2 separate regions of the Homo sapiens genome follow, and region 2 is linked to region 1. The links come from fine-mapping of genetic effects on gene expression. Tissue or cell type: whole blood. Region 1 holds a variant in brackets; the other region holds the start of a gene. All regions are shown on one strand. Distances are between the middles of the regions.

The links. PIP is the estimated chance that this variant, and not a neighbour inherited with it, causes the effect.
Region 2: it holds the start of GDF10, and the variant in region 1 is fine-mapped to the expression of GDF10 in whole blood (TOPMed, PIP above 0.99). The same link has a PIP of 0.9 or more in blood mononuclear cells.

Annotation. Positions count from the first base shown.
Region 1 is chr10:47,253,679-47,261,856 of GRCh38, reverse strand. No RefSeq gene overlaps it. Among named protein-coding and RNA genes, the nearest start is that of GDF10, 42 kb to the left of the region's middle. RefSeq lists a silencer at 273-322. The variant G/C (reference allele first, on the strand shown) is at 3,885.
Region 2 is chr10:47,295,488-47,303,665 of GRCh38, reverse strand. GDF10 (growth differentiation factor 10) reads right to left here and starts at 3,469. Exons shown (of 3, transcript NM_004962.5): 1 at 2,696-3,469. The coding sequence starts at 3,014.

The DNA.
Region 1 (8,178 bases):
CAGGCTGTCTCCTATGGCCAGTGCCTGCTGCTTTGCTTGGGAACAGTTGCTGATGGCATGTTGCTATCTCCCATGGGAACTGAGGTCAGCCTGGACCCTGTTCTACATACATTTGTCTTTTTGTCCTTTTCAAGTAGCACGGAGCTTTAACAGGTTTTGGTTTATTATGTGAGCCAAGTGCTTGGTGGCTTGGCCAGCGGTCCTCTATGCTGATGCCCAGAGAGACAGGATCTCTTTGCACATGGTGGGGGATTTCTAGAGCGAGATGGCTGGGGGGCAGGGTGGGGGTGGGGCGGGAGCGGGGTGCGGAGGCAGGCATTTGAACAGGTCCCCCTTTTGTTGTGATTTGTATTGCTAGTTTCTTTCCACTGGGTCTTGTGGTGTCTCTTGAGAGTGGCCGTGAGCCCAGACAGCCACTCTCTAGTGGAGCTCTGATGGGGGAAATTAGGTTCAGGTGTGTGTGTCAGGTTAGACACAGTGAAGAAGTGAAACCAGAATGCATGAAACAGGGAAAACATTTCACTCACAGGCCTCACAGCAGATGGTTGCACACTAGAGGCCTACAGGAAGTCAGGAGGTGGCAGGCAGCTTACCCAGTGGGTGAGGAAGAGAGAACACTTGTGGGACTCTGCTTTTATTAAGACTCATGGGCATTATCCTTAGGCTTTCCTTTGGGGTTGTGGACTGACTGGTTTAAAGAAAACACTCTTGAAGTGGGGACTTATTTTCCTGACTCTGGCATGACCATTTGGTGTTATTATGGTCAGGTATTGGATTTTGGGTCAGTGGGATGAGGAACAGCCACACGGGGAGAGGAAGTTCTGAGTCTAAAGGCGACTGGGTACAACTGAGTTCCAAACAGCTTATGTCAGGCATAAAAATGGATGCTGAGGCAGCGATTATATTAAACAAATTTATGACAATCTTGTTATTGAAGCTGCTGTTCCTTCTTTTCTACATCCTTCAAACCTTCACTAGAGACTATCTCTGTGAGACCCCAGCTGGGTCAAAGGTGCACAGCGATGGAGTGGCAGATCCCTGCTCTCAGCTACCATAGCATGGCCACAGGATGAGGAGAGAGGCAGACACACTCTGAAATCAGGACACGCGTCAGCAAGCATTGGCTTATCAGCAAACGACAGCAGACAAGAGCTCCTGGGGCTCTGGGGAAATGCTGCTGCCTGCTGGCCAAACGAACTGATGGATGGGCTCTTGGAGTGGGAGAGACTGGGCAGAAGCTGTGTGGGGTGGGTGACTCCCAACCTAAAGAACCCACTGAGACATATGTGGCTTCCCTCTTCCACCTTCATTGCCTCTTTCCGTCTAGATGCTGGCAAGGGGGGACTTGGTGGACAAAGAGAGCTACTATTCATTCAGGAGCTATGTTACACCAGTCACTTTACATGTGCCACTTGCTCTGGGTTAAACTGTGCCTCCCCTCACTCATATGTTGAAGTCCTAACCCTAACTACCTCAGAATGGGACGTTATTTGGAAATAGGGTCATTACAGGTCATTAAGGTAGGCTGATAATCCAATATGACTGGAGTCCTTATAAAAAGGGGAAATTTGGACACAGACAAACATAGAAGGAAAATAACATGTGAAGATAAAGGCAGAGATCCAGGTGAAGCTTCTACAAGCCTAGGAATACTAAACATTGAAATCAACCACCAGAAACTCAGAGAAAATCTTGGAACATATTCTCTCTCACAGCCCTCAGGAGGAACAAAACTTACCAGCACCTTAATCTCAAACTTCCAGCCCCCACAATTGTGCTACAATAAACGTCTGTTGTCTAAGCCACCCAGTTTGTGGTGCTGTCTTACAACAGCCCTGGGAAACAAATCCATTATTTCACTGAATCTGTAGAGCAGCTCCATGAAGAAGATAATATTGTGCCCATTTTATAGAGGAAGAAAACAAGGTTCAGGGAAGTGACTTTCCCAAAGTTATGGTTTGAAACCAAATCTGTCTCACACCCAAGCCCACTACATCCTCGTCTTCCAGCCGGGATTTGCCTTCAGCCTTGGTGTCAGCACTCAAGTGGGGGGCAGGCAGATTAGTCCCTCAGGAAAGCACTTGTTTCTTGGAAGTACAGTCTCCTGTAGGTTCTGAAAGGCAGGCTGATCCACTGGAAACAGGAGCCATGTATCACGTTTCAGAAATCCAGCTCCTAGACAAGCCCCCTCAACCCGTCCCCCTGAGCCCTGCCCAGAAAGCTCCCAGCATGGACAATGTGCATTTAGCTCAGGCCTCCTCCTGACGGAGCTATGCTCCTGCCTCAAAAGCCACCTCAGATGGAAGTCCCCTCTTGGATGACAGAAATGCCCACTGACACAGACATGCAAATGTTCCATTGGAGGTTCCTGAGTTTCACCCAGTCCTGTTATAGGCAGGCATATCTTTTCACCTGCTCTATGAAATGGAATGGAAAGTGGAGCCGAAAGGCAGTTGTATTGACCCTGCCTTTCATTCACTTTGGCTCCATAAATCAAAGAGCAGTCATGCAGTCAGGCCCCCAGTAATATTCCTTCAGGATGTGCCGCAGGCATGGTAGATTGTACTTACTGGGTCAAATAAATACCTTTTCATCTGTCCGTAATATAGGTAGCTATATTACTCTTTGCAGTGTTTCTCCTATTAACTTGATCTAGGCTCTGGAGTGATTTTCCTGAAGCCATGGGATGAAACCAGGCATGTTTCATGCCTCCTCCTGTCCTTCTTCAACTCCCCTAGCAGGAAGGCATAGGGCACAGCCCAAGGTCCAGCCTACACCAAGACTAGCTAGGACCCCCAGCAGGTTCACAAGGATTCAGGACAAACGAGAAACACTGCTACTAATTTACCATGAAAGGTGTATCCCATGGACTCCAATTCCTTTTTACTTTTAGTTTTGCTTAGAAACTGGAAAAGCAAAACATGCTGGTTTTACAATATTGCTTGTTACAGAGGTATATAAAGTCTAACTTGAACGTACCCACCTCCTTGCAATTCAAACAAATTTAAAAGAGAAATTGAATCATACCATATAGAGTGCTTTGCAATCACCTTTTCACTAAGGAATAAACCAGCCGGGCGAGGTGGTGCATACCTGTAATCCCAGAATTTTGGGAGGCCAAGGTGGGAGGATCGCTTGAGCCCAGGAGTTTGAGACCAGCCTGGGTAACATAGCAAGACCCCATCTCTACAAAAATTAGCTTGGCTGGGTGGACATGCCTGTGGTCCCAGCTACTGGGGAGGCTGAGGTGAGAGGATCACTTGAGCCCAGGAGGCAGAGTTTATAGTGAGCCGAGATCATGGCACTGCACTCCAGCCTGGGCACCAGAGTGAGATCCTAACTCAAAAAAAAAAAAAAAAAGAATAAACCAAACCAAGGAGCCTTTTAGATCAGTAAATATAGTTCCATTAAACACTTTTTACTTCCTCCTCAGTTTTCCATATTTTGTTTTGTTCCATATTTTGGTTATTTTGGAAGTAAATATTATCCCCTGTTGATACTATTTAGATTGCCTACACTTTGGGGCTGCTATAAATAAGTCAGCTATTAATATTTTCATGCTTTTGTGCAAGTATTTCTATTAAGATAAATACTGAGAAATAACATTTTTGAGTAGAGAAAACTCTCACCTCGAATGCTGGGAGATACCCTTCAATTCAGCTGAAAATGTCACCTCTTTGCATTGTCCAGTGCTTTGTAAGAGACCCCATTTTCCCACCCAGTCACACCTTGGATATTATGTATCATTTATGTATTTTTGTGCTAACCTAAAGGGAAAAATGGAATTTCATTTTTTCCATCTGAAGATTTGTGAGAATGAGCATCTTATTCTATGTTTACCAGCCTTCCTCTTTCTTCTGTGCTGTGACCCTTAAGAACTTGGC[G/C]CTTTCACTTTTCCTATTGAGTTGTTTCAAGTTTTGTGGTTAAATTAGTCAGTCTTCTGCTTTTAAAACAATATTTCTGGTTTCCTGCCTTGCTTACAAAATACTTCCTTTACTCAAGATTGGAAGACTCATTGTCCCAGAGTTCTTGGTTGTAAGCAATAGAAACTTACTTTATTAAACATAGGCAGCAAAGAGACTTAGAAGGATAACGGATGTCTTAGTAAGAGATTGTAGTGTTTAGAAGCAACCCTTGGACAAAAGGCCAGGATAGAGGGATGCCAGAGAGCCAAAAACAAGCCAAATGGTGCCACTGGAGACATTGCCCTGGACGCTTGCTGCCAAGAGGCTGTTCTGATTCTGCTGCTATTGTCTACACTAGACTCTGGGTGCTGGGTGCTGCCATCCTACCATCACCTCCACCACCTGCTCCTCCACCACCACCCCCATAACACCAGCACCTCCCGCCACTTCCCCTCCATCCCCTCCTCTGGCATCTCCACCATCACCATCACCATAACTAGAGTGAATTCTAAAGTATCCCCTGATTCTTTGCAGTATGAGTTTCAGATTCAGAATCCTCAGTGGGAGTCTTTAATTGTTCATACGCAAGCTTTCACTGTCAAGAGTCAAGGAGAAAAATCTAATATTTGTGTTCATTTGGGGGGAATTGGTATCCTAATAATATTAAGTCCTCCCATCTAGGAACATGGTATTGTTACCAAGCGATCAATGGGCTTGGTGTCCAATTCACATAGAGGCCAATGCCATGGCACCAGCTTTTGAGAAAAGAAAAACAGCAATAAAGCTGCTTAATGGGCAAGAAGGCAAGAGAAAACTCTCAAACCTGTCTCCTCGAGCAGGGGTTTGGGTCAGGCTTTATAAGCATAGGGTAATGAGGTGTGATCTGATTGGATCTTGCAATGAGGTGGTGCCAGGAGGCATGATCTTACTGGATCCTGCCATGGGGTGATACCAGAGCTTCCTCTGATTGGATCCTGGCTCCTGCCAGGCAGTGTCTGCTTCTCAGTTCAGTCCCAATTTCTCAGTCCCAGCCCTGAGGTTCCTCCTGTGGCTGTCCATTTGGTTCGCCTGAGCACGCTCAGATTACATCACCTTCAATCTGGGGGCCCATGGTAACCTGAAAACAACTCACAACTTGGTTTCATAAAAGTTGAACCACATAGGTGTGATGAAGTTACAGTAGGTGCTAAAATCTCCCACTGTGATTGTGAGACTGTCAAATTCTAGGTTTTGGAATTTCAACAATGTAGTCACAGTAAGTTTCGTTAATGAGATGCCAGTCTTACTTATTAGTAGGTGATGATGTTTTCTGTCTCATGTTTCTGATTTTCTCTTTATTCTTCATGTTTTAAAATGTTAGATGGTTTTATTTTTTCATTAATCCTAACAAGATATGTGAGTCACTTTAATCTGAAGTTCTTTCTCCTTGTCTTCTTACCCTACGTTCTGACAGATTTCCTTGACTTTATCTTTCAGTTCATTTACTGATGATCACTTTGAAGACAGGAATTGGTGGGTCACACTTATAATGTCTAAGAAGATGTATTGCCAGAAGATTCTTTAATGAATGTATACGTTTCCTGAATTTCTGAGAACAGCAATTAGAGTGCTTTAAAAGTTTTCCTTAGTTCATCGCGTCATCTAGGTGCTTCGTGCCTCTTCCCTCTGCCCTTCCCAGTCTTCACGGCTACATGCTGACTGGCTCTTCTGCCTGGTGCACCCTTGTTTGAGAACTGGGCTGGTTCTTCCAGATGGCTGCTACAGTGGGTTAGTTCCTGCAGTCCTCTTCTCCAGGAGGCTTCTGAGGGCTGAGCTGACTGCTTGGAGCTCTGGGTACCTGGGCTCATCCGCTGGCAGCCCTGCCTAGGGTGTGCAATGGACAGCTGGTCTTGAGGTGGAAGGCATGGCTGCTAAATCAGTAGTTGATGTCAGAAGGCAGGACAGTTCATGTTCACCTGCATCTCCTCCAGCCCCTCCAGCTGACCTGGGCTGTGCCTGGCTGCCAGAGGAAGGCCCCTTTTCCTGTATCCATTTGTTCAGAGGAGCTGACAAATGGCTTCCTCTGAGTTCCCAATTTCTGCTGGGATTTTCCATTCCATCCTCTGGCCTGTGCCAGTAGTAACATTTTACACTTGTCTGACACCTTTTCTCCTCTGAGCTCCAAGCACTTTACAAGCAAGCAGTTGCTATTATTGCCCTCTGAATTCTGATGGAAAAGCTGAGAGTCATGGGATCAAAGCCGCCATGATTGGGCAGTGAAGACAAGGCTCCCAGACACCAGGCCAGTCCCCGGCCCTTGGCAGGACCACATAGAGCACCCCAGCTGCTGAGGTGAGGTAGCCCAGGGGAGGGTTTTCAGCACGGGCTCCCTAGAGGCTCCCCAGAGCCGTCTTATCCTGTTGTAAAGTGATGCATTGTCCTTTACTGCAGAAGAGAGTGGGACCCTTGGGACTCTTCCCTGCCAGAAAAAGTGGGCTGATGGTTCGTGGTTTATTTTGGGAATGAGAAGACTCATTCAATCTGTAAAGGGTCCTCATCTTGTCTTGAGGAACAGGAAGCAGATCTGTATTACGTGGCCCAGGCAGCGGAATAAGGTTCAGTTGCTACAGGTTTTCACCAGTCAGAGGACTTGTTAGCACTGAGAGCTGCCCAAAGGGGAGTGCGTTTGCGTCCCTGGTTGGGTCCCGAGGCAAGTGTCTCTAGCTGCTGCTGGGGATGTCCTGCATCACATGATGCTAGGGAAGGGTGACACATGAGGCCTCTTCCAACCCAGATCTTGCATCATAAGGACACACTCTAGTGCTATCTCCTCTAAGTGGTGGTGGCCTTGGGGCTGAAACCCTGAAACCCTGGGTCATGTCACATCTTGCTGGATCTGCAAAGCTCCTTAGTTCCCATCTCCTCCTTCTTTCATTTAGCAAAACTCGGTTTGAGGTCTGCATTTTCCCTCTTTTGTACGAAGCTTTGCCCAGTAGCAGCTTACTGTTTAACTGGAAGGAACATCTGTGACCATGAAATTTTCAGCAACCTAAAAAGGCCCTGTTAAGTAATATTTGCTGAGCTAGTGTTGGGAGTCAGCAGTGTGTGTGTGTGTGTGTGTGTGTGTGTGTCTGTATGTCTGTGTGTGTGTGTGTCTGTGTGAATTCAGCTGCCCTCAGGCAGGTGGCTGGAAACTGGCTCACCTTTATCTGAGAACACATCAATCTTGGGAAGAGAATCCATGGAACTGAGTATGGAGGGACACCTGGCCAGAAAGAAACTGAGAACAAGTCATTCCTACCCCAGGGACCACAGAAGGAGGCAGACAGCTGGAGGAATGTGGTGTGTGTGCGTGTGTGTGTGTGTATTAGAGAGGGGTAGAGGACTATATTTTCTGGGCAGATAGAATTCTGAGCACATCTGTGTGTGTTAATGCTCACATGAAACCTTTCAAAGCTTGGAGAGATGGGTATTATGATTCTATTTTCCCAGTGAGGGATTAGAAGTCAAATAAGCTGCCCACGGCCCCAGCCCCGGCCAGAGCAGAGCTGGGATTTGAACCCAGTTAGTTGTCTTTGGCTCTGAAGCCCTTTCTCCTCTGTATCCCTGCCTGCCTTCAATGCAGGTGCCACAAATGAGGTCCCACGGACCCTGCTGACTGGCTCTGAGTCTTCCGGCTAGCCCGGCTGTCCCAGGCCCCAAGTGCTCTTTCCCAAGGGCTGGCTGCCTTGCAGGTCTCCAGAAGCCTCCGGGTCCACCCCCATGCCTCCCCAGATGCTCTAGAGAGCTCTGGGCCCAGGCCCAAGCCCAGCAGGGCAGCCCTGTGGTTTGCGATCTGGCCATGCATAGCTGGCTCTGAGCAGGCACTTATCATTCTTCCACGACCACCCAGTCAGTCTAACACAGCCTGGAAGTGCAGCTCTAGCTGCCCAGGCCGGTGGTGGCTCAGTCCTCACTGAGCCCTGCTGCTCCCACTCGCTGTCTGCCACCCCCGCTGTAGCCGGCCCCGCCTGCCCAGCTGAGCGAGAGGTCGCTGGAGCCCAGAAACAGCAGGGTCTGAGCATCCCTAGCAAACCACAAAGGGAGATTCACAAATCAAAAGGGCCCTAGAGAACAAAGCTGTCACATCAGTCCATCATGGAGTCGGATCTCAAAATATCGCCAGGCCAGAGTCCTGCCAGCTGTGAGTCACCACCCGGCCAGAGCAGCCGCAGCGGGCCCCCAGCCACATGGAAAAACACCTCGGCAGCCAGCTGGCTGCTCTCTGCCCAGACCTGGGAGGTGTAGGGTGTCT
Region 2 (8,178 bases), 42 kb before region 1:
TGCAGATTTAATAAGGAACGAAATTCACTTCAGGGAGCAATGAGGGAAGGAAGGAAGGGGTGGCTGGTATATCAACAGCAAGAGCTAATACACCATTGACACTTACCTGTGTCAGGAATGGTGTAAGCACTTGACATATCTCAGTTTCCATTAAAAAAAATCCTATAAGGAGGGGAGCACTATTAGCTCCATTTTAGAAGTGAAAAAAACTGAGTCATGGACAAGTTCAGTCCCTTGCCCAGATCGCAGAATTGGGATTTGGACCCCACGAGGCCAGCTCACAGCCAGCACTTGGCAGCTGAGCTGCACTGCCCGGTGGCGGGGGAGGTATAGTTACGTATCGCAGGCTGTGGGGATGGAGGCATTTGTTGTTCAGGAAGAGGTGCTGCCCCACTGAGGCAGCAGAAACCCACCACTGGGGAGCAGGCTGAGACTGGCATGTTCTCGGACCAGAGCTGAAGCCTCCCACATGGGTGGCATCATCCATGAGAGAAGGGTCCCTGCCCAAACTCATACCTCCTCAGACAGGTCACTGGATCAGGAAGTAGGCACATCTGAGGGCAGGCAAGAGGCTTGGCATGAAACACTCAGATGAATCAAGGGAGGAGAGGATCAAGCAACCTGCCTGGGCCCCCACTGTATGCAAAGCACAAAACCTGCTTAGCCCATTTAATCCTCACTTCTTCACTGTACTACAAGGAAACTGATGCTCAGAGAGGTAAACTAACCTGTGCCACTGCACACACCTGGTAGCTGGTACAGCTGGGATTCACACCCAAATGTGCCTCAGGCTTCCAAAGAAGAGGGATTTGTCAGACACTCCAGACTACCAGAATCCTGATTTCCCAGGCTTGTCTGTTTCACCCTACCCCTCCCAGACCCTGGTCATAGCTCTGAGGGAGATGACAGGGTGTGGGGAGTGACAGTGAGAACAGCAATGACCTGGCAGATGGGAGTTGCCAACCCCTGCCACTGTGAACAACCACTGAGTCTCAGTTTCCTTATCTTTAAAGTGGGAGTGCTGGATTTGAGATACTGTCTTCAGGTCCTTTTTGAGATTAATAACCTGAACTCCACTGCTACTTGTACTACCCCCTTTCTGTGAAAACAGAATGACACAAGAAGGCATCTCCATGCCTGGCTGCAGCAAGTAGATGGGCTCAGTGGGCAGGCTCACCCGTGTCGCAGCAGTGACCCTGCTGGCCTTGCTTCCTCAACTACAAGGCTTTGAGGATTGAGTTAATAGAGAAGCAAGGTCAAGTTTAAACCCACAGGAATACACAATACTTAGCACGATTATTTGTGCTCCCAGGGGAATCCCGTACATCAACACTTAATCTGGCCAGTGCTGGGCTCTGAGCTTGCACATATGACCTCATTTCATCTTCCCTTCAACTGCACAGGGGAGATATTGGCAAGCCTTGCCCATTTTATCGATGAATACACTCAAGTCCACCTAGCTTTAGTGATTTACCCAAGGTCATGTTCATGCCAGATGATTCTTAAATGGTTTAATTTAATAACGTTCCTCAAGAAATGGACCCCACATGGTGCAAGAAAGTTATGAGTGAGGATGGAGTTAGATCCAATTGGCCTGGAGCCCAGGGCCACTGACCTGGTGAGTCTGCTAAGTGGAGGAGGAGGGCATGGGGCCTCTTTGTGGCAGGTGCTCCCCAATCCATGGTTATGAGAGGCCACAGATGTTACCTTGAGTCACACAGCCAGTGACAGATCTGACCCCAGGCTGTCTAGCTCCACAGCTAGGCTTGTTTCCCTCTCCCTCAGGAGGGGAGCCTGTAGACTGCAGATTTTTCTCCTGTTGAATGGCCTCATCTTCTGCAGAGCTGCAGGAGACCCCCACCCACATTTTCTGGAACATTATTCTGCAACCAGGAGTAATCACCATGACAACCAGGGTCTTCTCACCACCCCTGTGGCCCTGGCTGCACCTCCTCTCTACCCAGGGCCTGCAAAGGTGGGCAGGCTGCTGAGGCAGGAGCCTGGAAGTGCTCTCAGAACAGGGCAGCATGGGCCTTTGCAAGTGCCCTCTGCCCAGCTCCATCCAAGGGGCTGAGGAAGTGGAAAGGTGGGACAGAGGCCGGAGATAGGCAGAGTGTTCCCACTGCCTAAGCCCCTGGGCCTTTCCTTAAACCCCTGTGGTCTGAACGCTTCATGCCAGTCCGTGGAAGTCCTCAATCCCGGGCAGCCAAGGCCCTTCTCAGTCCACTCTGCTTCCCTGGACACAGGAACCATAGCTGACGCCAGCTAGGGGCTCCTGCTTCCTGACAGGGCCCAGTGCCTGGAGCTTCTGCAGGGCTGCCTATGTTCACTGGCTGTGCCCTTCTCATTTGTAAAATGCCCACATAATTGACCCTATGACAGGGATACTCCCCTGGCCTATGTCCCCTCTTCCACTCTCTGTGCTTACAGCCTTGTGTATGGGGTAGTCTGTGTATGTCCAGCAATGTGGGAGCACCCCAGGGGCAGGACCTCTGTGCCACCTGCTGCCACTCTTGGTGCCCCACTGGAGGTTCAGGGCCTGGCATGGAGAGATCAGTGAATCATTAGTGAAAGAATGAATGAACCACTCACCCGTTGGCTAGAAGAGGAAAAGTAGAGGTGCACGGGTGGGGAGACAGAAAAGTGAGGAAGGTGGAGAATGAGGAGAAGGGGTCCTGGGGCACCCTCTACTTACCCAGCCTGGCCCTGAAGCTGCGGACCGTGTTGCCCCCTCCCGGCCGCGCGCCCTGCCGGCTGTACTTCTCATAGAGCCTGTGCATGTGGACAGCGACCATGTCCTGGGCGCTGGGGCCCAACGTGGCGGCCGCGTCCCCAGGGTGCCGCTGGAGATCCCTGTCCCCCTGCAGGCCGTCGGCGGCCGCGGGCAGTGCGGACCAGGCGGGGGCCCTGTGGCTGCCGGCCACATCCCGGAGCAACAGCAGAAACAACGGCAGCAGCAGCAGCAGCAGCTGGGGCCCGGGTCCCGGGCTGGTCCGAGCGGGGACATGAGCCATGGCGTGGTGAGGGCGGCAAAGGGCCGAAGTCCAGGAGGAGGAAGGCGAGCGCTGGCGCACCGGAGGCTGCGGACTGACCTCGCGGCAGTAGGGCGCGCGGGGAGAGCCCGGGCAGCAGGGCGCTGGATACCGAGGTCCGCGCGGGGCGAGGGGCTTAGCGGAGCAGGCACCCGGGCGCGCGGTCCGTGGGTACCGGCGGCCCGAGCCCCCGGCCAGCGGTCACAGCCGTCCGGAGCAGCGCAGAGCCGAGCCGAGCCCGAGTCGGCGCGCTGCCTTGGCGGACTCGCGCCGCGAAAGTTTGTAGCCCACTGCGCGCCCGGCCCGGCTGCTTCGAGGGGCGGGGCGGGGCGGCCGGCTGCGCCCTCGAGGGGACCCGGCTGCGCGCCCCGGACCTCTGGGGCTGCAGCTGACAGGGTCGTCCCTGGCCCGGCTGCCGTGTGCGTGCGCCCGTGTGTGGCAGCGTGCGCGCGCCGGGGTGTGCGCCCGCGAGTGTGGGGGGCGTGGGCGAGCGCGCTCCCCGCTCCCCAGCCGAGAGCCCGAGACCCAGCCCCGCAGCCGGCTCCTGTGTGTCGGCGCCGCAGCCTGCCCTGGCTGCGAGGGGGGCTGGGCGGCAGTTGGAGGGGGGCCTGCCTGCTGGGTTGCCCCTGCAATGGCATGCGATGGCTATGTGATTGCAAGATGACAGCTCCCCTGTGAGGACCAGAGAGGGGATATGTGTGCGCCCAGTTGCCTCGGAGTCAGCGTATGTCCAAAATGTGAGAGTGTGGGGAACAGAGATCCTCTCTGGGCTGACTCCGTAAAGAAAAGCCCTCACCCCAAAGCTCATGCCACCCAAGGGAACTGGAACAAGATCGTGATTAAAACTCAGAATTAGCTCATTAACCAGCCCTTTATTTGACGAGAGTAATTTCAGTTGTTGAAGAAACACATCAAAGGTCCTTATTAATCTTTGGACATGTGGCCTTCAGGATTGCAGGAATAAGACATGCTTTCAATTTGCCTTTAAAAACATTTCCAAAGCATCAGAGCAGGAAGAGAGAAAGCAGTGGCTTTCCTAAGAAGGATTCCCAGTGAAGTGAGGGTGTAGTGAGTCCCTGGCCCACTGCCCCTCAGCTTAACCCTGGGGCAGAAGGTCCTGATCTTTGTCTTGCCTCTAGCAGGATTTCTTCTCCATTGATAGAATTCAAGGGCTCTTATGAACTTGATGGGGAAAAAAATACATCTTTATTTTCATTAACTCTAACTGAAACTTAGCATTAACTAATGTTATAAATGCAAGCAACCAACCACAGTGGTATTAGTGACTTTGTCACCAATAGGCACCATCCACAGATATTTTCATATCACATGAGAGTGGTTGCGGATTCATCAAAGTATCATGTTTGCTCATTACCACTTCAGTTAGGCCTACTGCTAGTTAGTTAGCAAAAAGGAACATAGTTACTATGTTACAAAATTGTTTTTAAATATTTGTGATAACTCTATTCTAACGTAATTGTCTTCCTTTGTAACTCTGCATATTTTATTTTATGCATTTAAAAACATTCTTTTAAGAAGGGGTCCACTGGCTTCCCTAGACTTAGAAGGGGGCCCAAGACCCACCTAAAAAGTTTAAGGACCCTTGAGAGGGAAGGAAAGGACCACGTCAAGCCCATGTTCTTCCAGAAAGCTCCCAGATACAGTCTATGCTACATTTCAAAGGACTATTTGCAAACTTGTGAACAGGCTGTTCCCTTTACTTGGTAACTTTGGGCTCTGTGAGCCAAAATAGTTACTTTTCTTGGAGGGCTCACAATGCAATAATTGAAAAATTGCTGGAAAAGGCTTCTGTTGGTGTGTAAAACATGACCCATTTGTAATTTTTTAAAATCTTGCAGTGTCAAATTAGAGGCCATCCTATTAAGAGCTTCTGAACCTCAGACTTGTAGCTTTTGGAAAACCAGAGAAAAGCATTTTATTTGTTTTGAAAATTAGATCACAGTGTGTTCAACTTCCCATTAGGATAGCTCCCATTTGTTCTGAACCAGTTTTCAAAAATGGTTTGCCTGGAAGTGAGATGATCGGGTCTCAGCCTGGGACTTAGTGAATCTCTCCTTATAAATGATCCAGACCATCTTTCAGTGGTCCCTTCCCCCACTCCCACCCCCATTTCCCTCCTTCTCCATGTGCCCCTCACTTCCCCTCTGTCCCCCTCTCCCCTTCCCCCCCAGAATGCCTCTGACCTGCACCGGCTGGGGGTAACCTCTGCTCATGGGTAGTTTTGTGTCTGTTGGGGCCATACACAATCGAGGCCTGTTGAAAAGGAGGGTGAGTCCGCAGGAGGCCCGCACAAGCTGGGCTATTTGGAATCCGTGTCCATTAAAGCCTTCTGGCTCTCCTTAACTCATTCCCGCTCCATTCAAGCCAGCCTGAGGGTCAGGCTTTAGCCAGCACTAAAACCTGTAGGGTACAGATTCTCTGACATTGTTGGGAAAGAATTAAGGCATCAGCCAGGGATGGCTAATATTTCTTGCCTCATTTTATTGCTGAACAGCGGGACTGTAAAGCCTTGAACACGAGCACTGTGGCCCCCTTTCATGTAGCCGAGATGATGGGATAAAAATGTGTTTGGTGAAGCAATTCAGATTACCACTGGGTCACATCCTCGCTGGCTCTCAGCACGGCCCTTGAAACAGCATCACTATGACAAGAAACAATCTCTGTGCAATTTCAGCTCATGCAGAACAGTTTTTCTAGTGTGGAAATGAGGCTAATTGTGGAGCTTGCCCACGAGAATGTTTTGTTTTTAATAGCTCAGGCCGCAGCTCAGAATAAGAGTTGAGATGGCAGATTGTGGAGACAAGTCCTTGGATCTGTGATTTCTGACAGCTTCCTACAAAATTATCATGGTTCTGGGAGTTCCGTACACTGCAATTGCCAGGGGTGCTGAGGTCTTGAACTTGCTGATTGGAGTGAACAGTGTTCTCTCCAGACAGGTGAGAAGTAGTTTGGGGGCCCTCAGTCCTCTAGGCCTCCTTGCTGTGCACTCTGGGATAGCAGGGTTTTCTTCAGCTCAGAAAGTCATGAGCAAGGAGTGAAGAGACTCCATAGTTATGAAGCTCTGCACCCAAGTAAGGAAGTAAAACAAACCCTGGGTAGTTTTGAAAAGCAAGCTCATTTGGTTTCATCAAGAACCTCTCCCCAAATAAATGTTCCCAAGCGATTGTTTCATGATATCGTCCAGTTAATTTGTAGCAGAGCTAGTGTGTGATTTTAACTAGCTCTGTAACCCTGGGGCAGCCCCATTGCCTCTCTGGAATCCTAGGAGCCTCTTCTTTAAGTGAGAAGTCTGGCCTCCAGGCTCTGCTGTAGCTCCTGTACTCTCCCGCTGGTTCTGTGGCCCCATGTCAACATGTTCTTGGAAGTGAGGGTGCTCCCATGACCCTGTGGAGTCAATTGGGACTAGATTCATGTCCCTATTTTCACTGCTACTTAGCTGTGTGATGTTAAGCAAGTTACTTGCCTTCTCTGGACCTCAGTTTTTTCAACTCTAAGATGGGGACAAGAGCAGGATAGTATGAGGATTCTTGGCCAGATTTTAAAGTGACATGATACTAACTAAATTGCACTGATCATTCAGATTGGTCTTTTCATTTATTGTGTGTTTGAAAGAAGTTGTAGCACATTTAAAGTAGACCCAGACTGGCAGATTTGGTGAGAGTTTCAAGCCTGGCTGTTCCTTACTCTGCAGAGAAAATTCGTTTCTTAGTGCACAGTGCCAACAACTAAAAAAAAAAAAAAAAAAAGGAAAGAGAAAAGGAATGTTTCCTTGATGAGGAAGTCACAGACCTCTACCAAGGAACTGTTATGCTGTTATTGTCTGTGTCTGCGGGTTCTTGTCCAAAGATTGGGAGGAAGATTCACAGCTCTTCATCTAGATTTTCAAAGCTCCTGGCCCTTAAGGACAAAAGAAATGCAAGTGAGTCCCTATTCCGGTTGGGGCATGAGCTGTGGGGTGCTAGAGACAGGAACCCCAGGGCCTCCCCAGGCCGCGGGGCCAGAGTGTAATAAATCTGTGAAATAACAAGCACAAAGGACTTTATAATCAATGACAGATTTTATTTTTGCTCTGGCAAAATCCATCTGTGGAGTTAACATTTTACAGGGAAATAACTACCCACTTTGTGACTCCTCCTCAGCCCATATTCTCTTTCTTAAAGTTGGGAAAAGCTCAGAAAATCAAAGTCGGCTCCTCTGAGAACCGTGGCAAGCGAAAGCATGACTTCCCCTGGGCGGGGACCCAACTCTCCCGTTACTTCCTAGGGTGGTGGGGGCCATTCATTTCTGTTTTGCTAAAATACCCGTGACATGTGAATAAACTAGGATTACAGAACATTGTCTCGGTCAGTAATCTGAGCCGGCATGGCCTCTGGTTTGATGAAATATGGTGCTCTCTGAGCAAACATGGGAATTGGTATTACTTCTCTTTAAAGCTGAACAGTGGGGCTATTTAGAACTGATGCATGAATGCAGCACTGTGGGGAGTGACAATTTGAAGGGAACCGATTTGGGGGAGGAGGGCAGTGGTGTGTGTGTGTGTGTATGTGTGTGTGTGTGTGTGTGTGTGTGTGTGTGAGAGAGAGAGAGAGAGAGGGAGAGAGAGTTGGCCGGAGCCAGCCAGTTAAGAGGAGTCTATGGGAGAGGTGGCCAAGGGGACACTTTGAAAATTAGGACCCCTTTGTGGCTTCGCAGTCTCCTTATCACCCCCAAATAATCTTGCTCAAAACCTTTGACTACTCTCCTTCACAGGATGGATAAAGCCTTCTGTCCTTGTCCTGGCATTTAAGCCCTAACCATCTGGCCTCTCTGTCCTGGTGGAGTCTTTCTCCAGCCTCTGTTCCTATGCGTCCTCTCCTGTCCCAGAATTTAGAGCAGCTTCATTCCTTGGGTTCTCATCCCAGGCCCCTCCCCATGGCTTTAAGGTGGCTGTAGCTAATTCCCCTGTTGCCAGCACCCAGACATTCATGGCCTCAGCTGCCAGGACTTCTGTCTGCTGAGGGCTCACAGTGGAGCCCTTCCTCAGGAAGGCCGACAGGAGCGGCCTCACTCAAGTTATCTCACACTCCGGGGGCAGCCAAAGCCAGTGACTAGGTGCAGGGGCCTGGAAAACACTGTAGGGCCACCT